5 separate regions of the Homo sapiens genome follow, and regions 2, 3, 4 and 5 are each linked to region 1. The links come from fine-mapping of genetic effects on gene expression. A gene starts in region 1. Each other region holds a variant in brackets. All regions are shown on one strand. Distances are between the middles of the regions. Region 1 holds the start of PTP4A3 (protein tyrosine phosphatase 4A3). Region 2 has its middle 9.0 kb from the start of LINC01300. Region 3 overlaps LOC105375789 (a long non-coding RNA gene). Region 4 has its middle 16 kb from the start of SLC45A4. Region 5 overlaps SLC45A4 (solute carrier family 45 member 4).

Evidence for each region. PIP is the estimated chance that this variant, and not a neighbour inherited with it, causes the effect.
Region 2: its variant is the best candidate, but not a certain one, in a credible set for the expression of PTP4A3 in whole blood (TOPMed, PIP 0.65).
Region 3: its variant is the best candidate, but not a certain one, in a credible set for the expression of PTP4A3 in whole blood (INTERVAL, PIP 0.82).
Region 4: its variant is the best candidate, but not a certain one, in a credible set for the expression of PTP4A3 in whole blood (INTERVAL, PIP 0.61).
Region 5: its variant is the best candidate, but not a certain one, in a credible set for the expression of PTP4A3 in whole blood (TOPMed, PIP 0.73).

What each region holds. Positions count from the first base shown.
Region 1 is chr8:141,389,444-141,394,443 of GRCh38, reverse strand. It overlaps PTP4A3 (protein tyrosine phosphatase 4A3), which reads right to left and starts at 2,423. Exons shown (of 6, transcript NM_032611.3): 1 at 2,360-2,423. ASTILCS (antisense transcript of PTP4A3, liver carcinoma survival associated) reads left to right here and starts at 1,823. Exons shown (of 2, transcript NR_187488.1): 1 at 1,823-2,036; 2 at 3,293-4,576. RefSeq lists an enhancer at 2,731-3,351.
Region 2 is chr8:141,328,384-141,334,613 of GRCh38, reverse strand. No RefSeq gene overlaps it. Among named protein-coding and RNA genes, the nearest start is that of LINC01300, 9.0 kb to the left of the region's middle. RefSeq lists enhancers at 4,436-4,970, 4,971-5,507. The variant A/G (reference allele first, on the strand shown) is at 2,955.
Region 3 is chr8:141,440,298-141,446,527 of GRCh38, reverse strand. It overlaps LOC105375789 (a long non-coding RNA gene), which reads right to left. Exons shown (of 3, transcript XR_928722.3): 1 at 1-6,230. It also overlaps MROH5. Among named protein-coding and RNA genes, the nearest start is that of ASTILCS, 51 kb to the right of the region's middle. The variant G/A (reference allele first, on the strand shown) is at 2,390.
Region 4 is chr8:141,321,194-141,327,423 of GRCh38, reverse strand. No RefSeq gene overlaps it. Among named protein-coding and RNA genes, the nearest start is that of SLC45A4, 16 kb to the right of the region's middle. RefSeq lists an enhancer at 2,898-3,398. The variant G/A (reference allele first, on the strand shown) is at 3,047.
Region 5 is chr8:141,290,650-141,296,879 of GRCh38, reverse strand. The region is part of intron 1 of SLC45A4 (solute carrier family 45 member 4); the gene reads left to right. Among named protein-coding and RNA genes, the nearest start is that of SLC45A4, 15 kb to the left of the region's middle. The variant C/A (reference allele first, on the strand shown) is at 3,653.

The sequences.
Region 1 (5,000 bases):
GGTGGGGAGAAACGGTGCTCTCGAGGTGAGAAAGCGCCCTGGGGTGGTCTGGGACAGTGACCATCTGGTTACAGCCTTTGGTCAGATTTGGGACCTTCATGGAACAAGGCAAGCCCAAGGTCTTGGGGGGCGAAAAATCACCACTATCTGCCAGCCCCAGGCCCAGGAGCTCCCAGCTCAGCCCCTCTGGCCAAATGCCACCTGGACACCAGCCTGGTACACTTTCCACTTAACTCACCCTTTCGCCAGGACCTGCCAACCAGGGAGAGGCCTCCCCAAGCTGTATCACCGCCATCTGGATGTAAGTCCCTAAGGAGGTCACGTGCATAGGCATTGGGCACCAGCGGACACTCTGCCCACCCTGGCGGTGAGAGGGAGGGCTCACACCAGCTTATGCCCCCCTCTCAGTCTGACTGTGTGCACCTCTGCCCAAGTCCTCAGCCAGTAAAGTCACGTCTGTGTAGCTTGGGAGTAGTTACACCACAGAAATTGGCCAATGCCAATTCAGGATTTGGTTAAGCATCTGTTAAGCATGCCCTCATGTCATCTTTGAGCCCAGCCACCCATGGTGCCTCCAAGACCTCCTCGCCATCCAAACTGCCCACTTGTCTGAGAAAGCTGCCCACCTCCCGGCCTTCCTCCTGCCTCCCATGTCCAGTGCCTGACTGCATCAGCCAGCCACCCTCACCATGTTCTGGGCTGTTACTTGGGACAGAGAGGGGACCAGCTGAGGCCCCCAGCCTTACTCCAGTGGTCAGCGCAAGCTTCCGGGAGGAGGGCAAAGGCAGAGAGGAGCAGGCAGCTGAGGAAACCACCTGGAGGCTGCATCTCATCCCCGCCTGCATTTTCTCCCATCACGCCGACTGCCTGCGGGGGCCTGTCCGCAACCTGCCCCGCTCAGCCAGCCAGCCATGCCCCATCTCCAGGTCCAGCATTGGGCCTGGCACAGAGTAAGTGCTTGGAGAACACGTTGGGGGTGTTGAGGGGTGACCAGCTCCCTAGCGGGGCTATTTGGAAACAGCCCAGGAATTCCTACACAGGGCAGCTTCTCCTCCTTCGTAACCACAGTGAGGGGGGCCGGCGTGGTGATGGGGAGATCCCCAATGCCTAATTCCACTCAGGTGACAGGTTCGGGGCCCATTTACAGCAGCTCCAACGCCCCCTTTGCAGATGGGGACAACAAGGCTCTGCTTAGCCCCGCAGGCTAGGGGCTGCACCAACTCCACCTTTGTGGGCCTCAGTCTCCTCATCTGAGAAATGGGGTTAACGAACTTCTTGGGAGGATTGCAGGAACTCAGTGAAGCACGGCTCTGCACAGGGCTGCCAGGCGGCTTCTGTCTGTGCAAGGCCACAGGCACCCTGTGTTCAGTGACCTCCTCTGGTCTGCAGCCGAGGACACTGCTCCAACCTGGGAGCAGGGCCCCCAGGGTCCACAGACTAGGTGGATGCCCAACACCCACCATCGTGTGCGGGGCACACCCCAGAGCCCGCAGGCAGAGAGAGGGGGTGCAGCACGTGCCTTTCTGTCTTGGCTGAGGGTGCCCGGGCACACACTGTGACCAGCTAGCCTGGACCTCACGCTGCCCTTGGAGCCGCTATCACAGAGGGCCAGGGAAGCCTCCCTCATAAAGGGCTTCCCTCCGGGAACCGGCAGGGTGAAACTGCTCTGCCCACTTGGAGCTAAGCATGCCACCACCCCACCCCTGGGCCACCAGCTGCCCAGGGGCGTGTCAGGAGTCACCCGTTTAATCCCTGAGGCACGTGGATCAAGGCTGCTGACCTGATTCTACCGGGGTGTGCTTGGAGGGCTGAGGCGCCGCCCGAGTCCCAACACTGGTATGGTCTGAGGCGGACTCCACCCGGCCTGAGACCTGACGCTCTGCTTTCCCCTGACCTCCACTGACATCTACGACCCGCCCTGGAGGCACGGAAGGCTGTGGGGTTCCAGCCCCCCAAACTGTGCAGCTGAGGAAAATGAGCCGTGAATGGGGGCAGAGCCAGATCCTGGGCGGGACCCTGCGCAGGATGAACTCAGGGTAGGAGGTCTCCCGCGCACCCAGAAACGGGAGCGGGTCACCCCCTTCCAGCCAGGGGTGTTCTGTGGCTCGCCTGGGGAAACAGCGGCCTCCTGAGGCTCGGCCCCGGCACGTGGCAGCCTCCAGGCCCACGTTCCCGCCGGATCGGCCGCCAGGCGCAGGGTCCCGGGACGCGCGGGCAGGGGGAAGGCGGCGGCCCTCCCGGCTGCGCGGCCCCGAAGCCGTGCCCGGAGCGGGCGGCGGGCTCGCGCGCGGACGGCCCCCCACGCGCCTCCACAAAGCGCCGCGCGCCCCCGCCCCGAGCGGGCGCGGAGGAGACTGACCTGGCGGTCCGGGCGGCGCCGGCACGACGGGTGGAGGGCTCGGGACGCGCGCGCCCTCGCGCACAGGCGCGGCCGCGGCTCCACCGGCTTAGGGCGCGCGCCGGACCCGCTGGGTCACGTGGGGGCACGGCCCAATGGGAGCGCTCCCCACGCCGCGGCCGCGCGCCCGCCGCCCCCGAGGCCGCCCCTGGGCTGGGAGGAGGCGGCTCCGGTCGCGCGGGCGGCCTCGGGGACTGACCTTGGCTCCTGTGCCTGCCGGGCGCCTAGGCCAGGTCGGCCTGGGGCAGGCGGGCGTCGGAGGGGCAGTTTTGAAGCCCGAGCGAAGAGGCAGAGGGCGGGATGCGGACGAAGCCAGGGAGTTCACGAAACTTCTGGAGTTCTCAGTTTCCCCCTAAGTCGACTGGGGCTAGGTCCCGTGCCGCCAGGCGGGCTGGCTGAGGGGATGGGCTGGGGCGACAAGACGGCAGCCGCCTGGCCCGGGTACTTGGGGTCAGACCGGCTTCGAGGCCCCCGGACCGCCGTGTTATCAGGACGGGTAGGGAGCCCACGGGACGCGTGGTGCTCAGAAGAGCGGGGAGGCGTGTGGACGGGGCCTGCCCGAGCTGCACCACCGCCTGCCTCCAGGCTGCGAGGCCCGCCCAGGCGAAGGCGGCATCTCAGCCTCTAGCCCTTGGGGACCTTGAGGACGTCCTCTTATGGGTCAGCCGTTCCTAGGGAGGCTTGTGGCTCCAGTTACTGGAAAAACCAGTGCTGGTTCACGCAGGAGGCCCCAGTACAGGGGGAAACAGAGGCAAGCTGGGGTCTCCCAGGCGGCCTCACCCACCCAGCCCTGTTCCATGCCAGTCCCTGGACCCTTGGCCCAGTCAGATGTTCAACTGCTCCAGCCCTGCCTCCACTTCCCTGAAAGATGCTTTTCCACCCATCCACCCTCAGCAGCCAGAGGGACCCCGGGAAGATGGGAGTGAGAGCTGCCTTCGTCTGCAAAAGTCTCCAGACACCACCTCACTGGTGAAGGCCAGAGACCCTAAACTGTCCCAAGACCACCTGACTGGGCTGCCTCCCTGCCACCTGGCTGCCAGCCTCTCTCAGAGCGCCTGCAAGCTATTCCTCCAACCCAGAGTTTCCTTCCCAGCTAAAGGCCTTTGCACCTGCTGTTCCTTCTGCCTGGAAGTTCACCGCAGACTATCCCAGGGCCTCCATCCTTCCCATTGCATGGTCCCCATCAGCTGCCGCCGCCTCTGAGAGCTCAGTCTCCACTGGCCATCCTGTCTCTCAGCCCACTGCACTCTCCACTCTGCCAGAAAGTCCCCCAATCAGTGACAACACAGGTCACGGTCCACACCTCACCTGGTTTGTCCCCAGTGCCCAGCATCTGGCACCGAGCAGGTGCGTGCAAATCCTGGACAGGTGGGCAAGCTGATGGTGTCCAGAGGCCCCTGGTCCTTAAGGGCAGGGGTGGGGATGGCTCAGAGGACATAACCTTGCAGACCCGGGTTCAAATCTGGGCTCCTCAGCTCATTTGGTCCTCACACAGCCCATGTTGGGAGAGCTAGTGTTCTCCCTGTTTTGCTGATGAGACACAGAGAAGGTCAGCAACTCCCGAAGATTGCCCAGCAAGTTGGGAGTAAAGCTGGTGCAATTCCCACGTTTAGCTGCTAAACAGGGTGTCCTGTACTTGGTGTGTTCAAGCAGAAATCCACACATGGGAAGGTCAAGGCAACATCCCTGGTACTCCAGCTTTGAGGTCCTAGGAAAAAGGGAACCTCCCATTAAATGCTTCTATTGCCGGGAAGTTCAGCACCTGTAAAAGCAGCCCCTTCCCGTTTCACTGTGGCTGCATTTTAATTCTTATTTTTTAAATGTTTAGCTTAAGGCCGGGCACAGTGACTCACACTATAATCCCAGCAATTTGGGAGGCTGAGGCGGGAGGATCACTTGAGCCTAGGAATTCAAGACCAGCCTAGGTAACATAGTGGGACCCTATCTCTACAAAAAATAAAAAATTAGCCAGTCATGGTGGCATGCTCCTATAGTCCCAGCTTGGAGATTGAGGTGGGAGGATCACCTGAGCCTAAGAGGACAAGGCTAGAGTAAGCCCTGATCCCGCCAGCACCCCAGCCTAAGTGAAAGAGCGAGAGCCTGTCTCAAAAAAGATAAAAAAAAAAAAAGCATTAATAAATAAATGTTTGGCTTCATCTAGCCTGAGCAGCACCAACACCCCCTGCCTGTTTCATGCTATTTTCCTCCTCTCCTGCCCAAAATCTCAGAGAGGTTTCTATCCCAGCCACCCAAATTTGCTGGGGTGAGTGGGCTCCCGAGAGGCTGGAGCCTCCTTCCTCCCCACGCTCTTACCATCCTGCAGGGAGTCGGGAGCAAAGGAGGAGGCTCCTCCATGCTGGATTCATTTCAGTTCTCAGACATTCACCGAGTGCTGACCACATGCCAGGGACTTACACCCACCCACCAAGTCCACACTGAGCCCTGCAGAGGAATCCCTGACACCCCCATTTTGCAGATTAGGAAGCAGAAGCTAAGCGAAAGCAGAATCAAGATTCAAACCCAGGCACGGTGAAACCAGAGCTGTCCAACTGCTGTGAGTGGAATGGGCCGGGCATGAACAGGCTTGGGGAGAATCCTGGGA
Region 2 (6,230 bases), 60 kb after region 1:
GGGCAGAGTGGACAAGAGCCATACAGACAGAAGTGCGGGGGCCCCTGGGAGACCCCAACAGTCCACGGGAGGTTGGGGCATCCAGGTGGCAGCAGGAGGGTGTGGAGGACCCAAGGCCTGGAGGACAGAGAGGGGATGGCAGCAGGCTCTGGGAGAGCAGTGGGGCTGGGACAGAGAGGGACGAGGGGATGTGCATTTGCCGGGGTCTTGGCCTCTGGTTGTGAAGCCTGTGGTCGGGTGGGGCTGGGGGTAAGGGCCTGAGCTGAGCCCCAGGGCTCTGGCTAGGAGGCTGGGAAAGCGGTGGAGGTGCTTGTGCACACGGGTGTGCATACACACACACACACACACACTGTGTTTGCACCATTGGCTCCTGGGCAGATGCTTTTCCCCACTACCATCGTAACTTCCGTTCCCCTCCACCCTGCCAGGACATCTTTTCCCAGACTTCCCACCCCCATGCCCTTGCCCCACTTTCTCCCCATCTAAATCTTCCCAAACTGCCAGCCCTCCTCCTCCAGGAAGTCCTTCCTGTCTACTCCTGCCCCTGGGCTCCCCATTTTGGCAGAGGCTGGTATGCAGTGACTGTCCCTCCCCTCCTCAGCATCCATCCAGCACCCACCGCAGCCAGACCTGTCCTGGATCCTGAGGGCTGGGGCACCTGACATGCAGACATTCCAAAGACAGGTGGCATCCTACTGCACGTGCATTTCCTCATCTAGCCCTCACACTCTGAGTGTGGACACTGAAACAGTCCTGTTATGCAATGAGGAAACTGAGGCAGGAGGCTAAGACACTTACCCTCAGTCACAGAAGGAACTTCTGTGTCTGAAAAAGACCAAAGTCCCCCCCTGCCCCGCCAGGTCTCTATAAAACATCTTTGGGAAAGGGTTTGGCTGCCTCTGTCGTGGGATTGGGGCTGTTCACGGCCTGCCTGCGGTCTCACTCACCTGAGTCCTCTGTGGGTCCCTGCACACAACCCCAGGCTTTCCTCCAGCCCCTCCTCTCACCCCTCCCCTCCAGCTCCCCTCGGCTGCTTCCTCCTCCTCTTCCCTCCCACACTCCACACTCCTGTCCATCCTCGGTGCAAAGACATGAACTTGCTTCCCACGGACCCTGATCCCATCCCCTCCGGGCCCCACCTTGACTTCTCTAGATCTTTTCCTAAATGAATTCCAGGGAAGGATTGGGAGCTGGTCTCATGGTGATGGGCTTTGCTTCCTTTGCCCAGTGCTATCACATTTCATCTTTGCAGTGACCTGGCTTCATCCAAAGTACCAGGCCCAGCCCCTCCAGCCTCACCTCCCTCCACCAGCCGCCCCTTTCTCTGGCTCCAGCCCCTCCCTCCCGCCTCCAGGCCTGCCCCAGGTACACGCTCTCCACCCATCTCCTCCTTCACCTGCTCATCCCCTGCCCTCCACAGGTCCACTGAGACGCTGCTTGTTCCGGCAGCCATCCTGACCTGCTCAGTCTCCCTGATGATCCTTTGCAGGGGCCGTTCCCTCTGCCTGCAACACCCTGTCCCACCCCCCTTCTCCGGAGGCCTGGCTGTTTGTGCATCAGCAGGGGAGATGATCCAGATGTTCCAGATGGTCCAGAAATGCCATTCTTCTGGGCTAGAAAAGAGAACTGGGTAGGAGTCTCTTCTGTGGGGCCAAACCAGGTGCCAAGCCCATGAGTCCAAGGATGGCATCTGCTCAGAGGAGGGGATTTTTCTAGTTCTCAGGAAGGGCTGTAAACCTAGAGGCGGGTGCTGGCACAGTCGCCCCGATGCCCAGGGGCACACTTCAGCCCTCCCGGCACACCCTTCCCTGCTCTGTGCCCCCCTTACTAGAGATCAGTGTAAATACTAGCCCAATTATTTATTGTCAAACTAAATAGACAGGCTCCAGACTCCGGCAGGATCTTCCCATTGAATTCTCAAGAACATATTTTTGAATTATATCTTAGTATCCCATTTGATAAGAGGACACTGAGGCTCAGAGAGGTGAAGTAACTTGCTCAAGGGCACACAGCCCATTGTGACTGAGCAGAGCTCGAATCCAGAAATGCGGAAGCCCAAGGGCAGCCTCCCTCCCGTTCTGTCAGCCGCCTGGTTTCATCCAGCATGCTTACAGGGACCTGCTGCCCCCACCTGGGTTAGGGGTGGGCTCTAAAGATGATCAGGGTGCTCCTGGCCCCATCATCACATAGGCAGGGCTCCATCCTGCTTCTGCCACAAGTTGGGTGACCTTAGGCAACCTACCTAACCTCTCTGAGCTGCTGCTTCCTTTTCTGCAAATGGGTTACTGGGATTTATCCTGCATAAACAAGACATGTAAAAAAAAAAATCAAAAGGCTCAGGACAAAGCCTGCTGCACAGAACACCCTCAGTAAGTGTCAGCTTCAGGCAACAGCTCATGACTGTGTGCTTAACGCTGGAAAATCAAGGAGTGTTATAGGACCAAAGAAATGAGGCCCCACTGGTGAGGTTTCAGGCACAGTGACAGCATTCAGGGGGGTACAGGAAGCCCCACAAAGGCCCTGAGGCCCAGGGCCCTTCCCGGCAGCAGGTCACCAGGAAGCAGGTGAAGGGGTTATGGGCCCTGAGGATAGATGACCTGTTGCTGCCCATTCTTGTGGGGGTAAAGCGCTCCCCTCCCCCCAGGGAGTTTATGGTGAGCTCCCCTTTCTGCTTGGTCCTGGCCTGAGCATCTCCCTGGCATGGTGGTACCACTGCTCTGTGCCCTGACGCCTCTGCCCAGACCTCGGCTGCAGGGCCCATGTTGCAGAGAATTACTCCCAATTCCATAGACGGTCCTGAGGCCAAGAACAGAAGCAGGTGCTGGCCCAGCACCCACCTCTTGTCTGCATCCTTTCCCAGACCCCCTTCCTTCCTCCACACACCCCGGTCATGCCCACCCCGGGGTCCTTGGCCGCACAGCCCTCAGTGTTAACCCAGGACCTAGGCCCTGAGG[A/G]CTGAGCTCATGGTCTCTGCAGAGGTCCCAGCAGGCAGGCAGGCTGGACACTATTCCCGGTGACAGCTCAGAGGTCAAGCAGGTACCCCCGGCCACACGGGCACAGGAGTGAAGTCCTGCAGGCTCCCCCTCCCCTAAGCTTCCGGCCAGTGCCCCCACCCCAGCTTTGGCTGGGCCTCGAAGGCTTGGCGGAGCCCCTGCGAGATGCTGCTCCCGCGGAGGACAGGAGGAGGGCTGTCCCATTGCGGTGGGTTCACTCCCCTGCCACTTTATTTTCCCAGAAAGGCAAAAGACACCTTGGGATAGGACAGTGGGATGGAGTCTGATGTATTTGAAATTGGAAGCAAAAAACCCAGCTCCCAGGGGCTGGGAGAGAGGCCGAGGGCAGTGGGAAGGTGGGGCAGGGACACACCAGGACGCAGGAGTCTGCTGGATCATAGCCAAGTGCGTGGGGCCCACTCAACCAAGGAAGAGCAGGGGGACCCAAATTAGGAACTCCCTTGGGAGGGGAGCAAGCACTGGAGAAAGCCCAGCCTGCCCTGCTGCCCTCCGCATCCCTGCAGGCTCCTGCCCGGCTGCCCTCCACGTCCCCGCAGCCTCCTGCCTGGCTGCCCTCCGTGTCCCCGCAGGCTCCTGCCCGGCTGCCCTCCGTGTCCCCGCAGGCTTCTGCACCTCTAGCTCACACCACAGGCTGCCCAGGTGGGGACCTGAACTCGGCTCTTCTCACCCACAACCTCCTGCACCAGGGCCAGCAAATGCTGCCCCTCCTGCTGTTCCCCAGCTTAATTCCCAGCTGAAAACAGAGCAAAGGCATTGGCAAGACCAAAGCCACTTGTTTCCCAAGGACCTGGATTCTGAAGCAGGTGCCCAGGTGTACGGCCACACTGGACACCCTCTTGATCCTCCCTGGAGCTGAGCTAAGGCCAAGGGCTGGCCCCAGCCCTGGCTGCCTAGTAACTATGCCCAGAGGCCCAGCACAGAAGGCGTAGCCTGCAGAGGCGCTGGGCAGAAGGACGGAGCCCTGAAAGTGTGCAGAGGACACACTGCCTGCGGGCAAGCGAGGCTGTGGGACTAAGTGAGCAGTGCAAGGTGCACCGCCTGCCGGCAGCCCTGGGCAGGGACCCCCATCCATCTGCTATGTGCTCCCCCAAGGCCAACCAGGTGTCTCTGCTGGAGACAGTCACAGTTTGTGATCTGTTTAACTGATTAGTGTCTGCTACAGACTGCCAGCTCCAGGAGGGCAGGGTTCTGTCCTGTCCCTTCCAGCTGGACCCCCACGTCCTAGCATAGTGCCTGACGTATCACATGAGCTCGGCCCATATTTGTGAGAAGAAGAGGAAGAGGGAAGGAGAGGCAGGCACCCCAGGGCCGACACGGAGGGCAGGTTGGAGGGTCTGGGAAACTTATTCAGAAGATGGGCCTGGAGCATGAGTGAGTTAGCCTCCACAGCAGCTCAGGGTTTGAGTCCTGAGAGCAGAGTTCAGCGCAGGTGAGAAAAGGCCACATCCCAGGAATGAGGAGCTGGGCCTGACACTTTCCTACGTGGCCACGGACGGCTCTCCTTTAGGGACCACGTGCATTCGCTGCCATCTCTCTCTGGCCCTAGAAGGGACGAACACCCCGATACCTCCATTTTCACAGAGGAGCAGCGGGAGGCCCAGAGGTGAAGGTCCTCACCAGGCGTGCAGCTAGGGTCTGTTCCTAAACCTGTCCTGTGCTGCCCCAGGTGCGGACAGGGGCTGAGGCTGAAGCAGAAGCCGGCCTGCTTGCCTGCTCTGTGTTCCCTGAGAACCCTGGCTGTCTAGTGGGGGCAACCCTGGCATGCCCAGAGACCCCACGCTGTGGTGGGGGAGCCCCTCACAGGCCCAGGCGCAGGTGCATGTCCTCCCTGCCCCAGAGGCCCTCGCCTCCTGCCGCTGCTGGGGGCCGCCCTGGCTGAGCGCCCACCAAAGTGTGAAGTGCTTCCCGAGGGAGTCCATGGGGAAGCCCCAGCCCCGCCTGCTGTGGCTGCATCAAGGAGGCGGCCTTCCTTCCGGGCCCATCGCCTGGGCCTCTGGGGTCAGGCCTCGGGTCACCCTCCGGCTGGGACAGGAAGCCTGACATGAGTCTGGAGTTGGGGGTAGGGCAGGGCCGGGAGCCAGCCCAGCGGGATGGGGATGCCGGCTGTCTGGGCAGACACCGGCGGGGTCAGGGAGGAGGCTGGGGTAGGGTAGCTGCCCTGTGACCTGCCCCCCTGGGATGCCGCAGAGCCCAGGCCCGCTGCTTCCCTCCGGTGCAAGCTGGGATGGGCTGGCAGCTGAATGGAGGGCCAGGAACCCCACCACAGCTCCAGGCCAGGCACCATCATTCCTGCCCTGGAAAAGGGCCTCCTTCCAGCCTCTCTGACTCTACTCCGGCCACCACAGCCCGATGTCCACGTATGTGTCATCCAAGACTGCGGCCTGAGTCTCATCCAAGATGTCATACAAGACTGCAGCCTGTCTTCTGAGTACATGAGGTGCAGCCAGTCCGAATTGAGTTGTACGGTAAGCGTGGAATATGTCCCCACCTAGTATGAGACAGACTGTGAAATATCTCATTCATAATTTGTTATATGAATGACACGTTTAAATAATATATTGGATATATTAGGTTCCATAAAATATATTACTAAAATAATTTGCATCAAATTCTTTTTCCGTTTTCCTAACGTGGCTGATAGAAAATTAGAAATTATTCACGAGGCTGGCATGAGATTTCTAGTGGAGAGTGCTGTCTCTGTGCCGACAGAGGGAGTGTCTCCAATCTAATTCACACCAGTCCCTTCCTTGCTTAAATAAAGCCCATCAGGTCAGGGGAAAGTCTCCCATGTCCGGTGTGGACTTCTCCCAGGACTCAGTCTCACCTCTGCCCACCAACCCCACTTTCCAGCTGCCCCGTGGTGCCACATCTTCCAGCTGCCCCCGTGGTGCCACATCTTCCAGCTGCCCCTGTGGTGCCACTACTGGGCCTCTGCAAGCTGCTCCTTCTCTAGGAGTGCCCTTCCCTAACCCTGTTTCCTCCTTTGTCTAGGGATGTCTTCTGGGCTTTCACAGATGCCTGGAGTGTCACCCTTTCTTCAGTGCTCCCAAGCCCACCTCCCCTGTCCACCCCCAGCAGCCCCTGCCTCAGCCCCGCTGGCTTGGGCTCCAAGAGGCGGGGCACCGTGCCGGGGTCAGGGGATTGAGTAACTTGCCTCGGAGCATCAGTTTGCTCATCTGTGAAACAGGTGCCCCATTCACGGGACCCACATCCCAG
Region 3 (6,230 bases), 51 kb before region 1:
TCCCCCTGCTGGAATGTTCTTCCCCCAGCCATCCTGTCTCTGCAGGCTCTGCTCACCCGCACCTCACTGAGGCCTCCCCCACCACCCTCCAAAATAGCAGCCCCTTCGGCGCCTCCCACCCTCTGCTGCTTTATTCTCGCCGCAGCCCCGCCATCAGCTACCATCTGTGATCTGCGCCTTTTACCTGCTTTACTGCCCTCACCCATAGACTGGAAGGTCCCGAAGAGCCAGAGACATCTGTCTGTCTCTCGCGGGCTCCCCATACAGCAAGGACGTCTGTCTGTCTCACTGGGGGCTCCCCATACAGCAAGGACGTCTGTCTGTCTCACTGGGGGCTCCCCATACAGCGGGAATGTCTGTCTGTCTCACTGGGGGCTCCCCATACAGCGGGAATGTCTGTCTGTCTCACTGGGGGCTCCCCATACAGCGGGAATGTCTGTCTGTCTCACTGGGACCTCCCCATGCGGCTGAGACATCTGTCTCTCGCGGGTTCCCCCACCAGCAAGGACGTCTGTCTCTCTCAGGCCCCTCATACAGCTGGGACATCTGTCTGTCTCGGGCTCCTCATACAGCTGGGACGTCTGTCTATCTCTCTTGGGCTCCCCATACAGCTGGGACGTCTGTCTATCTCTCTTGGGCTCCCCATACAGCTGGGACGTCTGTCTATCTCTCTCGGGCTCCCCATACAGCTGGGACGTCTGTCTCTCTCGGGCTCCTCATACAGCTGGGACGTCTGTCTGTCTCTTTCGGGCTCCTCATACAGCTGGGACGTCTGTCTGTCTCTCTCGGGCTCCTCATACAGCTGGGACGTCTGTCTCTCTCGGGCTCCTCATACAGCTGGGACGTCTGTCTCTCTCGGGCTCCTCATACAGCTGGGACGTCTGTCTCTCTCGGGCTCCTCATACAGCTGGGACGTCTGTCTGTCTCTTTCGGGCTCCTCATACAGCTGGGACGTCTGTCTGTCTCTCTCGGGCTCCTCATACAGCTGGGACGTCTGTCTCTCTCGGGCTCCTCATACAGCTGGGACGTCTGTCTCTCTCGGGCTCCTCATACAGCTGGGACGTCTGTCTGTCTCTCTCGGGCTCCCCATACAGCTGGGACGTCTGTCTGTCTCTCTCGGGCTCCTCATACAGCTGGGACGTCTGTCTCACTGGGGGCTCCTCATACAGCTGAGACATCTGTCTCTCGTGGGTTCCCCCACCGGCAAGGACGTGTCTCTCTCTCGGGCTCCCCATACAGCTGGGACGTCTGTCTGTCTCTCTCAGGCTCCCCATATAGCAGGGACTTCTGCCTCGCGCGGGGCCACGGGTGGTTTCTGCTCAGGCCGCTCCGGGCAGGTTCTCCTGGAGCCCTGGAGGTGGCCCCGGCAGCTCCCGCAGCCCCAAGAGAAAAAACTCTCACCACGGGCACAGTCCTGGGCTCTGATTGGCCTAGCTTTGCTCACATACCCAATCCTGAACCAATCACCTTGGCCACAGGGGCCTGTGCGGCTCTGACTGGCCAGGCCTGGCTCCCACGCCCTCCAGGGAGCGGCATGGGCCCAGGCCTCTTCGACCACCGCGAAGGGGCCCAGGCTCCGGTTGCCAAACCAGCAGCCATGCCACCCAGCACCACCACGGAGCCAGGGAGAAAGGGAGGCCTGAGAGCAGAGTGACACCCAGGTGTATCCCGGTGGCTCACGGTCTGAGGTCCCTGCCAGGCTGCTGTGGCACTGTCAAGGTGGGGACAGGGGCCCAGAAGGACAACTGGATGAGCAGTGCTGAGTAGCCACTCTCTCTGCATGCCCAAAACGGTGGGGGCGGCACAGGACACCATGGGGCAGCAGGGGAGTCTTGAGGCCTGATGGGGCCAGCCCTGGGCCTCTGAAGTTCTCATGTCCTGCTTAGATGGACAGGCCTCTGGGACCAGGAAGCAGCGAGTGGGGTTGAGCAGGGCACCCTTCCCTGGGCAGGACTGCAACAGGTGCTGCCAGGCCTGCCAGAGGGGCCTCCCTCTCCCCTGCTCCTCCACTAACAAAGCCTTTTCCTTAGAGATGTTTCCTGCGTTGGTCAGTTCTCAGCTGGGTCCTCCTCCAGCCAGTCTCCACCCTGCCCCACAAAGGAATTCTCATTGTTCTCACACGTCATCCATGTGGGCCAACTCTATTTAATTCAAATGGGCTACATCGTTTCTCTTTATTTCGAAGGCACTCATCATTCTCACCCTCATCTCATCTTCATCTTTCCCTCTGTCCCCTGGGGATTTGGGGCCAAAGGCTTGTGATCAAAAGAAGAGGAGGAACTTCACACCCATTAGGTTGGCTACTGTCCAAAAAAAAATCAGAAAATGAGTGTTGGCGAGGATGTGGAGAAATCAGAAGCCTTGTGCACTGTTGGTGGGAATGTAAAAC[G/A]GTGCAGCTGCTTTGGAACAGAGTATGGAAGTTCCTCCAAAAATTAAATATAGAATTACCATATGGCCCAGGAATTCCACTAATGGGTGTACACCCAAAAGAAAGGAAAGCAGGCACCTGGGACAGATATTTGTACGCCCTGCTCACAGCAGTGTTATGATAACCAAAAGGTAGAAGCAACACAAGTGTTCATCAATGGGTGAATTAGAATAAGCAGTGTGGTCCATCCATACAATGGAATACTATTCAGCCTTGAAAAGGAAGGAAATTCTGATGCTACAACATGGATGAACCTTGAGCACATTCTGCTGAGTCAAATACTGTGTGAGTCCACCTACTTAAGGTCCATGAGTAGCCAAATCTACAGAGACAGAAAGTAGAATGCTGGGTGCCAGGGGCTGGATGGAGGGAGAATGGGGAGTTAATGTTTAATGGGGACAGAGTTTCAGTGTGGGAAGATGAGAATGTTCTGGAGATGGATGGTGGTGATGGTTGCATAATATTATGAATATGCTCAATGCCACTGACCTGTACACTTAAAACGGTAAATTGTATGAGATGTGCATTTTACCACAATTAAAAATAAAACCAGAAGAGGAGGAGGTAATGGGAGAGGGAAGAGGGTCTCATGGACCCTCAGGCTGGGGAGGAGTATGGAAAGCAGAGGGGCTTTGCCTCCTCTTTCTCAGGTGCCTTTGCCCTCTCCGGGGCCAGAGTGGGGAAAGGACGGTTGGTCGAGTATGGGGCAGGCATCACTGGGATGCCAAGTGTCCAAAGAGGCTGCAGGCAGGCAACGACGTTGAGACCAGCAGGAACGGAGGATGGTTCCTTGAGTCCACAGCGAGGCAGAGACTCAAGGGGCTCCACCTTCATCGGTCTTGGGACTGCGTATGGATTTCAGGAGACACATGTCCTTGAGCATTGCCGGGGGTCCTGGGCTGGAGGTGGTTTTGTGTTCTATGGACCTGCAGGGGAGTTGGGCATGGATTCCCAAGAATGCTGAATCAGCCCATCTTTCTGGAAGCCCTGCTGGGGCTGCAGGGACAAGGCAATCTTGAAGAACAAGCCAATACAGTGCCCAAGAAGTCACAGGACCAGAAGCTTCTGGAGTCCTCCCAGAGCAAACAAAATGCCACTCCCCCCACCAAGTCCCCTTCTTCTGAAAACCATTGTCGCATTATGGCTGAGACCAGTGACCTGGAAAATGCTGCCTTTTTTTATGACACAGCTTGGGGTGAGAGGACAAGCCAGCTGGCATTTGGATTGGCACTGTCAGAACTTTCACGGATGGCATTTCATCATTTGACACTTGGTTTTGCAAATCTGCTCAGAAACGTGCCTGGTCCAAGCTGACAGCCTCGTCCAGGCATGCTCACACATCCAGGGTGATGCACTTACACTGACCGAGCACAGGGGCCGGGCCAGGGGTGTGTGGCTGGAACAGTGAGACAGGCCAGCAAGCCAGGGCCATCTCATGTTTCATGGGCCTGCATTCTGGGGCTTTCTACCTGTGCCCCAGGGACTGCGTTCAGTGACAGTGACATCCTGTGACAGTGACATCACTGGCAGGTTTGGAGCCAGGGCCCAGCTTGACCCCACCTCTGTGCCCTTGCCCAGGCTGTGTGACAGGACTGCTCCCTCCTCTGCTGAAGGACAGCGACAGTAGAGGGCCACCTCAGGCTGGGCAGGTGAGGCACCATCCATGGTACCTGGCAACTACCAAGCACACGGTGACACCACAAGCCGTGCACTCACAAGCGAGGGCCGGTGCCGTGGGTTTCTCCGTCACTCACAAGCAAGGGCCAGTGCCGCGGGTTTCTCCGTCACTCACAAGCGAGGGCCAGTGCCGCGGGTTTCTCCGTCACTCACAAGCGAGGGCCAGTGCCGCGGGTTTCTCCATGTCCTCTGAGGGCAGGAGTCTCAGGAGTGGAGAATGGACACTTCTCTGGGCTCCGCTACGCCACACGCCCTGAGTCTCCCACGCCCTCGCCCGCTGCTACCCTCCATACTCTTGGCCCATATTTAAATGCTGCCATCCTTGAGCTGAAGGGCAGGTGCCCTTCAGCAGAGTGCCCCTCCCTAGAAGGGCACCCCCTGGTCTCCTGCCCAAGCAAGGCCCGGGGTCTGACTGGGCACATGCTGCCTCCCCATGCTCGGCCCGGCTCCGCCAATCCTGGGTCCCAGCATTTCCGCGTAAAACAGGGCAGGAGGGAGTAGCCCCAGGGGGCCTCAGTGACGCCAGGCATAGGAACCAGAACGTGCCTTTCTATCTGGGTCAGGTGGGCACCCTTCCCAGGGCAGGGGGTGGCCCAGGGGGCTGCTTGTGGCCTGAGGCAAGCCCTAAGCCCCCTCTGCTCAGCTGCAGCACGTCACTGGAGGCACTGAAGAGCCTGCTGTCCACCACGGGGCACTGGCATGACTTTGCCCACCTGGAGCTGCAGGGATCCTGGGAGCTCTTCACCACCATCCACACCTACCCGAAGGGCGTGGGCCTCCTTGCCAGGTACGGTGGGGCCAGGGCAGGTCGAGGCAGCCTGCTTCAGGCCACGCCCATCCAGGGGACTGGGTATCTGGACTGCAGTGACAGGACACGGCCCCCTGCCCCCGGTCACAGGCACACGCTCAGAGCCTGTTGATGCAGTGTCTTCCCCCGGCCCTCACCCTGGCCTGTGACCTCCTAGGGAACAAGGGCTGTGCCTGCTTCTCTGTCTCCTGCATGTCCAACCCAAGCCTGGCACGCAGTGGGCAGCCAGTGGGTGGAAAGGAAGTGGGAACGTGCCTGCCACGTTGGGACCCTCCGGGATGCCAGCCCTGATGAGATGGGTGGGGGCAGGAGGGTGGGCTCTGAGCAGTGACCACCAGCCCAGGCCCACCCCTGCAGGGCCATGGTGCAGAACCACTGCAGGCAGATCCCAGCGGTGCTGCGTCAGCTGCTGCCCAGCCTGCAGAGCCCACAGGAGCGTGAGAGGAAGGTGGCCATCCTCATCCTCACCAAGGTAGGGATGCAGGCCAGCAGAGAGCACCTCAGATGTCTGAGCCTCCTTCTCCAGCCTCCTTGACACCCCAGCAGAACCCATGCCAGAGCTCACCCTGACTGGGGAGGCTGCCCAGACGGACCCCCTCGTACTCCTGCCTTCCCACTCCCAGCCCTTGGAGGGGGGCTGCACACTTTGGGGACCTGTCTCCCCACTCGGCCCTCCCTGGCACAATCCCTGCAGAGTTGCAGGGGCACTAGGTGCAGACTCAGGCAAGTCTAGGCTCCAACTTCAGCCCTGTCCTGCCTGTGGGACTCAGGGTAAAGCCAAAGGGGAATGGGTAGAAGCAGATGCCGCTGGGTGTGGCACACTTTGCAGCTGTGAGCTCAGGCAGGGGTGGGACTGGGGCGAGGAGGGTGCTGTTTCCGTAACTGACACTAGTAGGGGAACCCAAGCGAAAGCCTCATGCCAGCTCCCACCCACCAGCTGCCTAGGCCGCCCTCCATGGGCGCTCTACCCCCAGGTGCCCCACAAGCTCGGCTCTTGATAAAAGTGAGGCCTTGCCTCGCTGTGTGACCTTAGGCAAGGCCCTTTCCCTTTCTGGGGCTCAGTTTCCCCAGCTGTACATTGAGGGGTTGAACCAGGATACTTGTTCACCAAGATACCCAGAGGGTACTGGTCAGCCTCCCTCCCTGAAACTCCCACCGGACTCCGGTCCTAGAGCCCCACCCCTCAACACAGATGCAGGCGCCTAAAAAAGAGTGACCTGCCTGCCCTCCCGGGGGCCACCTCAGTTCCTCTACAGCCCTGTCCTGCTGGAGGTGCTTCCCAAACAAGCTGCCTTGACCGTGCTGGCACAAGGCCTC
Region 4 (6,230 bases), 68 kb after region 1:
GGCCCCGGCCTTCAGCTGTGCTCCTACCCATCATGATGCCTGGTGCCCGCCCCCATCCCCAGGACCCAGAGGTCAACTACAAGTCCTGCTTTTCCCGCCCACCTCACACCCGGTCTTGGTGTTGTCTTGTTTTGTTGGCTGTGTGCCGTGTTTAGGAATCACTCACACTCACCGGAGGCCCTCGTCTTCTGGGCGTCGCTCCGTGCCTCGCACACATCTAAACAACCTTAACAACCCCCTGTCACCTGCCGGGGCTGCCAGAACAAAGTTCCACTCGCTGGGCGGCTGAAACAACAGGCATTTATTGCCTCACAGCTCCGGAGGCCAGAAGTCTGAAATCAAGGTGTCAGCAGGCTGGGTTCTTCCGAGGGCCAGAGGGAAGGGTCCGTTCCAGGCCTGCCTCCTTGGCTTGCAGAGGGCCATCCTCTCCTTCATGTGGCACATCTGTCTCCAAATCTCCCTTTTTCCAAGGACACAGTCACATTGGATTAGGGCCACTCCAACGACCTTATTCAACTTGATTACCTCTGTGGAGACTCCCTCCAAATAAGGTCACATTCTAAGGACTTCAGTTTGAATTTGGGGAGTCACAGTTCAACCCACAACACCCCAAGAAAGAAACTCTCCACCCCATTTTACAGATGAAGAGGGCTGGGACCCCTGCTTCAAGTGGGCTGGGGGCTGTAGCCCTCCCTGGAGAAGGAGGCTCCGGGAGAAGGTGGCTCCCAGCCTGGTGGGGTGAATCAAGTTTACCAGGGCAGTTGTTGCAGCTACATTTCAAAATCTGGCCCTTGCAACAGCCTCCTCCTCCTCTGCCTCCTCCTCCTCTGCCTCCTCCTCGACTAATTGACCTCAGGCATCCACAGGGGTATCGATGTCTCTTCTCCCGGTCCCACCCCACCTGGGGAGCAGCCCTGGCACCTCCAGCCCTGCCGCCCCACCCCCGGTGGGCATATTCTCAGCTCAGCCTGCTGCTGTCTAGCCGTGTGCCCCAGCAGGCGTCTCTCTGAGCCCACCTGTGAAATGGGTGTGATGAGGCTCGAGTGAGTTCGTACCGTAGCAGGAAACCCCGAAGGAAGCCCTGAGCCCTGGAAGGAGCTTTGCGGGAAGCAAGCTGCCGGAGACCCCACCATAGGCAGTCACAGCCATCTGCTGAGCTCCGGGGTGAAAGCTGGCAAGCTGGGGAAATCTCTTTAGTGCTTAGGGCACTCCTGCAGGGCTGGACTCGCCTAACGGCGGGGTAGGCAGAGTAGGACTGGACCTCAGGCTGCCAGGCTGGACCAAAGCTTCCCCTCCTCCGCCCCTCCTTGTCCCCCCGGCCCCTCGCCCTCCCTGGCCTCCAAGTCCCCACCGTCTCCAGTAAGGCTGTCCAGACGTCTGTGTCTTGAGCTGGTCCCAGCGTCTTTGTTCCTGCTCTGGAATAGGGATGGCTGAGAAAGCATTTGGGAGGGGCGCTGCGTTTTAGTTTAGATTGGAGGGCATGGGAGCTGGGCAAGGCCGGGCGGCATCTGACTGAAGGAACAGTGTGTGCGAAGAGGCCAGAGTATGGATGACCTTTGACCCCAGGCCCTCTCTGGGTCCTTGCCCCCGCCACCCCCACCCCCGCCTTCTGTGGCTGCAGCCCTCGAGGGGGCTGGCAGCCTTAGAGGGTCTCCAGGCCTTGCTGTTTCCGCAGCGCTGCTCCTTCAGCCGGGAACGCCTTTCCATCTTTTCCGTCTGCAGAGACCCTGCCCGCCCCTTACCTCCTGGCCAGGAGTCCAGCCCCCGTGTGCCCTTCACGTCCCTGGGCCTCAGCTTCTTCATTCACAAAGTGGGCTGATCCTGTCCTTGCCGCCCCTCGTGGTGGGGGTTGGTTGTAGGGTCGGCAGAGCCCCTGGGAGTACAATCCTCTGTGAACCGCAGGTCCCATGATGTGCTATGTGTGTCGGGGCCACGGCAGGTGGGGGGCCTCAGACCCCAGCATGGCAGGCACCACGTGGCAGCTTGCTCAGCAGCCCCAGGGCCTCCGCATCCCCCGGGGGGTCGCGTAGCAGCAGCCACACCACGGGGCGCTGCTGGGGTCAATGCCGAAGGCCGGTCGGGCTCAGGACCGAGGCCGGCTGTTGTCTCTTGGTTTTTCTTCACTCTTCTGGGTTCGACATTGAGGGACTGCCACGTGCTGATGCGAGAGCCCCCTCTCGCCCCCAGAGCTCGGAGTCAGAGCTGGGGCTGTGCTTCCCGGGGTGTCATGCTAGGTGACCCAGACTGAACGCTTCTAGTTCCCCAGCAGCTTCAGGGAGCCTGAGAAGCTTCCGGAAGGAGCTCACTCTCAGGGGTGCTATGGCCTTGGGGCTGAAGAGCTTGTGTCTCATTGCTGCCGTCTCATCGCTGCCCCCTTTATGCAGGGCCTATCACCCCCTCCTGCAAGGCCTGTGGTCCCGTCGGGCTGCATTCCCTGTCATGGGTGAGGAGACTGAGGCTCGAGGCGAAGGCTCCTCCCACCCACTGTGGGCAGAGTCCTGGAAGGAGCACAGTGTTCTTGAAGGAGCCTCCAGGGATGAGCAGAGACCTTATTCAGGTGACCCCAGGATTATGGCAGATGAGTGTCCTGGAGCCACCTGAATGGGGGATCAAGACCCCCCAGCCCCACCAAGTCAGCACCTCCTATAGCAGGCTGGCCTTCCTGGAGCCTCCATGTGGCACCACTTCACCCAGGGCCACCCATTAGTCCCCTGTTCCAAGGGCCCATGAGGTGGGTACTGCTGGTGTTCCCACTATACAGGTGAGGAGACTGAAGTAGAGCCCAGTGCTTCCCAGTGGCCAAGATTGGAGCCAGGATTCCAGCCCAGCCCTGGGGCTTCTGAGCTGAGGCCCAGGCCCCTCCACCACACCCCACTCATGGCAGCGAGGGGAGGGAGGGTCCCCAGACTCCTCGACAGGAGAGATACGTGAGGCCCAGAGGAGCGCAAGGCCTTCCAGAGGGCTCCAAGCATGGCGAGGACAGACTACACCCTGGACCTGCACAGCTTCTGGTGGCTTTACCCTGGGGAGCCCACAGCCCAGGCAC[G/A]AGACTTCTGGTCTTATGTCTGCTGCAGGCCGGTCAGAAAGACTCTGTGCCTTGGAAGGCCCTGGGTGGGCGGAGCAGCCATGTTTAAGGTGGGTGGGTTTTGTTCCTCGCTGGCCTGCCACAGACCAGGCTCTGGGCTGGGCACCAGGACGGGATGGACAGCCTTAGTCCCTGCAGAAGTCACCATGGCGTCATCACGGAGGCCACTGGGAGGTGGGAGCTGCGCATCAGGGTCCTCCCCTGAGAGGCGTCTGTCCACCTGATCGGTGCTGTGCGTGCAGGCGGACACTCAGGAGCCTGCACACAGGACTCGCCTGGTCAGCGAGGCCCACATTTCCAAACCCAATGGGCCCACAGGACAGTGGCAAAGAGGGTGTGGCTGGCATTCCTTGCAGAAAGGAGGGGACTCCTCGAGGGGCACCTGGAGACACATCCCAGAACAGCCGCTGGACCGAGAGCCAACAGGGCGTCTGGCACAGGCAGATGGAGCATCAGCCACTAACAGGAGGACAGGCGGGGTGGCCTTGGCTCTCAAGGACCCCCACTGGGGCCCAGGCCAGGGCAGCAGGAAGAAGGGGCTTTGGTCCAGCGCCTGGCCAGTTCCTCTTTCTCTGAAGCTGTTCAAACCCTTAGGCCCAGGGCAGACTCCCTCAGGAAGACGTGAGTGACAGACAGAAACATGTGTCAGACAAAAGGGGCAGGGGACAAAATGAAAAGCAAGACACCCTGGGGCTGGGGCATGGGACACTGAGGGACTGTGTGTGTGAGCAAAGGACAGGAGGGGTGTGTGTGTGCCTGTGCAGTGGGGCACACCCAGCGGGGCAGGATCCGTGGGCACACATAGACCAGCGGGACAGTGGCAAAAGGGGAGTATGGGACAGCCGCCGGCATGTGCATGTGGATGTGTACATGTATGTGCATGCACACGTGTGTGAGCCTGTTCACCTGCAGTCTGAGGCAGAATGTGGGCATGCCTGTGCACTCTCAAATCCCCATCTGGTGCCCCGGTGGCCCCCACTCAATGGGCTACAAATCTGTCTCATTGGCCTCAGAGAAGCGAATGCTCACAACAACCTATACCAGTGCCATGTGCTATACACATGGGGAAACTGAGACACAGAGCAGGGAAGCAGGTTGTCTGATGTCATAGCTTGCAGAGAGTGGAGGGGACTCCAACACCTGGATCCAATTGTGCCTGTGCCCTTTGACCCCACCCCAACTTGGGGCCAGGGTAGCCAGGATGCAGCCTCCAGGTGGGCCTGGGGTTCATTCATCCATGAAGCCAGCCCCTCATGGCCCTGGAACAAGGGGGCTGAGCTGTGGTGTGTGTCACCTGCTGGGCCAGCATTCAGAGCAGAATCCATGACCCTCCCGGGCCTCTGTGAGGGGAGGTCACGGCCGAATGTTGTAGATGTGGGAAGTTGGCCTCAACCCTCCATGTGATCTCCCCCAGTCACAGACCGGGCTCCCTGGACATGCCTGCCTCCCACGGTGGCTGTGCACCTGCCCTCACCCTCGAAGCTGGTGGGGCTGAGGCTTTGCCTGGAGACCCAGGAGGGTCAAGCCCAGGTCCTCAAACCCATGTTCTCTGGAGACTAAGGAGGGTATCCCAAAGGCCCAGACCCCCCACGGCTAGGGGCCCCCAGCCCAGCTGCGACCGCAGAAGTCCCTGCTCTGGGAAAGAGCAGGTGGGGAGGGCGTAGCCTGAGGGTGCTCCAGGTGTGGGGTGCCAACAGGGTCAAACCAACCTGGCAGGTTGAGCAAGAACTGGGTTAGTCTCGTTCATTTCTGTACCCCACCCCTGCAGGATGAGAGTGACCTTATTACCGGCCTTGAGGACAGCCTGGGGCAATGGACAGAGGGGCCAGGGCTCTGCCTTCCCCTAACGAGTGTCCAGGCCACTGGGCCACGCCCAGGCCCATTTATGCATCGGTAAAGGGTGATCAGAATATGGCCCTAAAATTGCAGGTGGCCTCAAATGAGCAAGGGATGAAAAGTGTTTAGCATGGAGAATGCTCCATAGATGTCAGCTGTCATTGGTCATCGAGGCTCAAATGGCATCATGGTTGTGAGAGCAATGGGGTCATACCTGTGTCAGGAACCTGAACAGGAGTTGAGTGGGGAGCAGGGGGTGAGGGGCCCCACAAATGCCTGGTCACCTCTGAACTCAGAGATGGTATACTCCCACATCCAGCCCTTTGACCAACACAAGGCTCCAGTCTTTTTATTTTGTATTTTATTTTATGTATATTTATATTTTTATTTATCTATTATTATTATATTTTGAGACAGAGTCTCACTCTGTTGCCTAGGATAGAGTATAATGGCACGATCTCTGCTCACTGCAACCTCTGCCTCCCGAGTTCAAGTGACTCTCCTGCCTCAGCCTCCCAAGTAGCTGGAATTACAGGCACCCACCTCCATGCCTGGCTAATTGTTGTACTTTTAATAGAGATGGGGTTTCACCATGTTGGCCAGGCTGGTTTCGAACTCCTGACCTCAGGTGATCCACCTGCCTTGGCCTCCCAAAGTGCTGGGATTACAGGTGTGAGCCACTGCGCCCAGGCATTTTTTGTATATTTTTATTTTATTTTTAATTTTAGTTATTTATTTACTTATTTTTGAGGTCGAGTGTTGCCATGTTGCCCAGGCTGGAGTGCAGTGGTGCGATCTTGACTCACTGCACGCTCTGCCTCCCAGGTTCACGCCATTCTCCTGCCTCAGCCTCCCGAGTAGCTGGGACTACAGGCACCCACCACCATGCCTGGCTAATTTTTTGTATTTTTAGTAAAGATGGGGTTTCACCATGTTAGACAGGATGGTCTCGAACTCCTGACCTCGTGATCCACCTGCCTCGGCCTCCCAAAGTGCTGGGATTACAGGCGTGAGCCACAGCACCCAGCCCTTAGGTATATTTTTAAATTTTTAGTACAGACAGGGGTCTCACTTTGTTGCCCAGGTTGGTCTTGAATGCCAGGACTCAAGCGATCCTCTCACCTCAGCCTCCCAGTGTGCTGGGATTACAGGCATAAGCCACCGCGCCCGGCCTTACTTTACTTCTAATTCGAGTCCTCTTGCTGGGGAAGAGGCTCCACTATTAATGACCCTGACCGCTCTTGGGATCAGCAGTCTGGACTCTATGGCTGGATGACTTTGATGTGTCACTTAACTGCTCCAGGCCTCA
Region 5 (6,230 bases), 98 kb after region 1:
GCGTGAGGGTCTTTCCCTCCACTTTTTTTTTTTTTTTTTTTTTGGCAATGGAGTCTCGCTGTGTCACCCAGGCTGGAGTATAGTGGCATGATCTCGGCTCACTGCAACCTCTGCCTCGTGGGTACAAGCGATTCTCCTGCCTCAGCCTCCTGAGTAGCTGGGACCACAGGTGTGCGCCACCACACCCAGCTAATTTTTGTATTTTTAATAGGGATGGGGTTTCACCATGTTGGCCAGGCTGGTCTTGAATTCCTAACCTCAGGTGATCCACCCACCCCAGCCTCCCAAAGTGCTAGGATTACTGGCGTGAGCCACCACGCCTGGCCTTCTTTTTTTTTTTAATTTTAATTTTAATTTTAATTTTTTTTTTTTTTTTTTTAAGAAATGAGGTCTTGCTCTGTCACCCAGGCTGGAGTGCAGCAGTGCAATCATAGCTCACTACAGCTTGAATTCCTGGGCTGAAGCCATCTTCCTGCCTCAGCCTCCTGAGTAGCTGGGACTACAGGCGTGTGCCACCATGCCCGGCTAATTTATTACTGTTTTTTGAAACAGGGTCTCACTCTGTTGCCCAGGCTAAAGTGCAGTGGGCAACTGCACTTCAACTCACTGCAACCTCTGCCTCCTGGATTGAAGCGATTCTCGTGCCTCAGCCTCCTGAGTAGCTGGGATTGCAGGTATGAACCACCATGTCTGGCTAATTTTTGTATTTTTAGCACGGACCAGGTTTCACTGTGTTGGCCAGGCTGGTCTCAAACTCCTGGCTTCCTGTGATCCGCCCACCACAGCCTCCCAAAGTGTTGGATTACAGGCGTCAGCCACTGTGCCCTGCTAATTTTAAATATTTTTATATAGGGAGGGTCTCACCATGTTGCCCAGGCTGGAAGCCTGTTTCCTAGGGGCCAGGCTTGGATGGTGGTCTTGTCGGGCTGACCCCGGGCTGTGGACACCTTGTCCCTTTGTGCCAGAGGGGCAAGGGCTCCAGCACCAAAGCCAGGGAGCCTCTGACCTTACGAGATGAGCTCCGCACCATCCTGGGCGGTGCAGGGCTGCTGGCTGCTGGGGCACTCAAGGCCTTCAGCCTTGAGAAGTTGTTTTTTCTCATCACGTTCACTCAACCAGGGTAACCTTCCCAGGTGCTTCCAGCCTCTGGAGACCTTTCAGACTGATGTTGGGTTCCGAGTGGTCAATCGAGGGGCCTCAGTCAGTGCTGCCGTGGGGCAGTTCAGGGAGATGGAGTTGCTTGTGGAGCCGTTTACCCTGTTTTCTGCGTCCCCCTGGGTGCTGTGTTGTGGAAGTGGGTGTTCCAGACCAGCTTCTTTGCATCTTAGATGCCTTCACGTCATTGCAGAAGGGATTTCCTTATACCTGTCCCCTGCTGAGTGCGGTAGTTCCTGATAACACTTAAACTTTCAATGTTAATAGCCCTGTGATGCGCTGTTATCTCCATTTTAAAAAGAGAGAGATCTTCATGGAGGAACTGAGCCTAACTTGAAGGTGGCGGCCCTGGGAGTTCCGCCTGGTGCCCTTGGGCTCTTCCTGCCAGGACTGGGAGGTCCTGCAGAGATTGGATCCTGGTGCCTCTCTCAGGGGCCTGGGGCAGATCTCTAATTTCTCTGAGCCCCAGGGCCCCACCCATAAAGCAGGTGTGGTCCCAGCTTCCCTCCTGCTTTCCCTTCACCCACAGGGGCTGCCTTCCCTGGCTCACATGCCTCCAGCCTGTGGCAGCTCCTCTCTGACCACACAGCGCTGCTTCCTCCTGTCCAGTGTGTGTTCTCACTTCCCTCTCTGGAATGTCCACACCCCTCTGCCAACCCAAGACAGACAGGCCTGCCCGCAGCTCTCTCCTGAAGTCCAGTGGGAGGACTGTCCCCGGAGAACCTGGGGAACCTGCTGCCCCCACTCTGCCGGGTGTGAATGCTCCATTACCTGCCAGTTCCTGACTCACTTTCCTCACCTTCGAGCTGAGGCTGCCACTTGGGAGTGCCCTGGGAGCCCCCAGAGGGTTAGATGAGGCCTAGGTTTGGCATTGGCCCTTGGTGGGCTCTGCAAGTGGTGACTTAGGAGCTGATTCCCTCCCAGGGTGCCTCCCTCCCAGGGGTCCCGCACCAACTGGGCCTGGGGCTCAGCACCGCCGCTCCCCTCTCTTGTGCTGCCCTCTGTCTTCACATGTGTGTTTCTCCTGCCATGCTGGCTGGTGGCCCCCATTTAGCATGCATGGGTTCCCCGGGACGTGGGTTGCCACGTTGAGCTCACAGCCGTTCCTGCCACAGGAGTGCTGGTGCAGTTCCACTGCTCACAGGGAACTGGCTGTGAGGGGACCGCTCTGGGGAGGCCTCATGGGGCTCCACAGTCCCAGCCTTGGACCAGCAGGGACCGTGTGTCCCAGCAAGCCTCAGGCCAGCCTTGTCCCCACTGGCCATCTGCCTGCAGTGCTACCTTGGAATTGGGTTGGTGAGGCGGGGGCTGGGGTCAGGGCTGCCTCTGCTGACCTCCTGCTCTGCTTCTAGGCAGGGGCTGGCCCCGGTGCACGTTCCCTCTGCACGCACTGGTCCCTCCCGATGCGGCTTGTTCATTCACAGCAGGCGTTGACTGAGACCTGCTTCTGTCCAGCCACCCTGACCAGTCGCTGTGGGTTTTCTCAGGTGGCACATTGTCCCCAGGAAGCTCAGGCAGGGTCCCTCGGTTGGCCCTGGGGGAGTGCTATGCTAACAGTACACAGAGACCCTGGTCCACGGAGACCCTGGTCTACAGAGATCCTGGGCCACGGACTCAGGTCCTCCTGGTCTGCAGCGTGGTGTGCCCAAGGGTCTTCTTTTTGCTCCCAGCTGGCCTGAATCCCCAAACCAGATGTCTCAACCCTTGTTCAAACCATTTTTTCTCACTTTTTCTTCTGTAGATCTTTACCGCGGATGATTTTTTTTTTTTACATTTACTTTTTTTTTTTCTTGAGATAGAGTCTCGCTCTGTTGCCCAGGCTGGAGTGCAGCGACACTATCTCGGCTCACTGCAACCTCCACCTCCAAGGTTCAAGCCATTCTTGTGCCTCAGCCTCCCAAGTAGCTGGGAGTACAGGTGTGCACCACCACGCCCAGCTGATTTTTGTACTTTTAGTAGAGACGGGGTTTCACCATGTTTGCCAGGCTGGTTTCAAACTCCCAACCTCAGGCAATCTGCCCGCCTCGGCCTCCCAAAGTGTTAGGATTACAGGCATGAGCCACTGCTCCCGGTCTGTTTCCATTTTTTGATTGCAGAGAAGTTTTGTACACAGAAAATGCATTTCCGAGCATGCCTTCCCCCTTGTCCCAACACTCTAAGCTAAGCTCAAAGGCAGACATTGCCACACTGTCTTCAGTGGAACTTTGCGGATTCCACCCTGCACTTTGTACAGTGCCATTGCCGTGCATTTTATTTTCTTTTTTTTTCTTCGAGACGGAGTCTCATTCTGTTGCCCAGGCTGGAGTGCAGTGGCGTGATCTGGGTTCACTGCAATCTCTGCCTACTGGGTTTGAGTGATTCTCTTGCCTCAGCCTCCCAAGTAGCTGGGATTACAGGCACCTGCCACCACTCCTGGCTAGTTTTTTGTATTTTTAGTAGAGATGGGGTTTCACCATGTTGGCCAGGCTGGTCTCGAACCCCTGACCTCATGATCCAC[C/A]TGCCTCAGCCTCCCAAAGTGCTGGGATTACAGGTGTGAGCCACTGCGCCCGGCCGCATTTTCTTTTTCACTTTGTGGGCTTGAGGAAGCAGGTGGCTGTAGTCACAGTGAACTGCTGGCGTGCATTACGTAGGCCCACGCATCCAGCCTCAGTAGGGGGGTGGGGGAGGATGGTGCTGTCCTCGAGTCACCATGCATGTGGGTGTCCAATCCCCATTTCCGATGACTGACCTGTAATCTGGGCCCTAGGGGGTATGTAGGCCCCTTGCCTGAGTGTCCCAGAGTCAGGCATCTGCGCACTCATCTGTCCTGCAGTTTAGAGCCAGCTTCAAGGCTGATGGTTCTAGTCTTGATTTGTTAACAAGCTGATGGAGAACTTCTTAGAGCCAGCCCTTCATCAGCGTTGATAGGGTGTGGTTTTTGTCGCTGACACCTTCAGTGACCCATGAAGACTGTGTATGCCTGTGTGTGTTGTGGAGCGATGTTAGTTGCTGTGTCAGTCAGGTCCTCGTGTTACCAGGCGGCAAGTGGCACCTGCAAGGAGAGAGAGAGAGGAGGCAGTGGAAGGACTGGACCGAGGGTCGGGCAGGGCTGAGGGACACCAGCAAGGAGGGGTGAAGCCTCATGCTGCTGCTTCCACTCCAGGCCCAAGGGGCACACGGAGGGAGCTGTTACTGGAACCCCCCAAGAGAGCAGGGGTGCAGGAGCGGGCCGCAGCCTTCCGAGGAGGGACCCGAGGAGCCTGTGTGCTTGGCCAGCCTCCCGCCCTGGGCGCGTGCGGGGCTCTGTGCTCCACGGCCTCCTTGTGTGGTTCCCTGTTGGGTGGGAGCTGTGGCCATAAGTTTACGGTAACTTAGAGCCTTGGGGAGGGAGCAGAAGTCTGTGTCGGCCCACATAGCTGAGGAACCTGAGCCCAGAGTGGGCCCAGTGTGCCACGTGGCCTGAGCCCACAGCTGGATTGGCGGGCCCAGAATGCCGCGTGCCCTGGTCGGGGATGTATGCAGGTCTCCTGAGTGTGAGCCGTTTTCTCCTGTGAGAACCTGCCCCAGGTTGTGCATGGACACCCGCTTGTCTGCCGTGTGCAGCTTCGAGGCAGCTCCAGGGCGGTGAGGGGCGGGGAGTAGGGCCGTGAGGTCTGGTTTCTCTGTGCTGTGATACCTAAGTTAGCGCATGGCCTCCCAGCACCAGGCACGCAGGAGCAGCAGCTCTGAGGGCCAACGCGGTGGCCAGACCCCAGAATCTGAGGGTTGAGCGGTAGTGTCCCAGCCGCTTCTTTGAACCTAACATGCAGATGAGATGAACGTTTTATCTGGAGGACGGCCTGTGCTTTGGTTATGAAATGTGAAACCAGTATTTTGCTGTTTTTTTCTAGCTCAGTCTTTCCTTGGCTGGGTCTGTCCTGGGTTACTTTTCAAAATGCATGAGTTAACACCTATACAGAGGGTTCACAACAAGCTCACACTGCCCTGGCAAGCCACGCCAGTAACATTGACCCAGGGACTCCACTCCAGACACCACTGCTCGCCTGATTTGTTTTATTTGACAGATGCCAGTAGTTTTACCTGTAGTCGTTCATACGTTTGTCCATTCCTCTTGGATCAGTTCTAGAAAATGTGGTTTGACTGTTACTTTCTGACATCACCAAGTACGTGTTTGATGAGCTTCAGAAAATAGCTCTGTAGTGATCTGCGCTGTTACTTATAGCTTTTCCTAAACTTAGAATCTATTTTCCTTTGTTTCTATTTGCCCCCCCTTTTTTGTTTTGGTATGAACCTAAATTGCCCAACTAAATTCTGAAGTAAACTACAAAAGGGAGGACTGATTTAAAAAAAAATTATGAGAAGATAATAACCACATCACAACAAAAATTCCTTTGGCCAGTTAGATGAACGCGTGTGTGTCCCCCAGCCCTCTTTCTCCAGACTGGGCTGGTTCTCTATCTTTTCTGGGTCATGGATTCCTTTGGAGATGTGGTGAAAGCTGTAAACTTGTTCTCACAAAAATGCAAATAGATGCAATTTTGTATACAGTTTAGGGAGTGTTTTGCCAGTGCGGTGGCTCATGCCTGTAATTCCAGCACTTTGGGAGGCTGAGGTGGGTGGATCACCCCCAGCACTTTGGGAGGCCAAGGTGGGCGGATCACTTGAGGTCAGGAGTTTGAGACCAGCCTGGCCAACATGGTGAAACCCCGTCTCTACTAAAAATACAAAAATTAGCCCGGCATGGTGGCAGGCACCTGTAATCCCAGCTACTTGGAAGGCTGAGGCAGGAGAATCGCTTGAGCCCAGGAGGCGGAGGTTACAGTGAGCTGAGATCGCACCACTGCACTCCAGCCCGGGTGACAGAGTGAGACCCAGTCTCAAACAAAACAAAACAAAACAATTTAGGTGTTGTTTATGTGTGTCCAGGAAAGATCCTCCCCAGGCCCCCCCGCCACATCCCTGCAGTCTCTGGACCGTAGGGTAAGACCACACGCAGCGTGGGCTGCCTGGTCTGTCTCTGGACCCAAGGACAACGTGCTTGACCTGGTCGTTCATGGGAGCTGTGTTTGGCAGCCCTGGAGGAGGGCGGCCTGGTT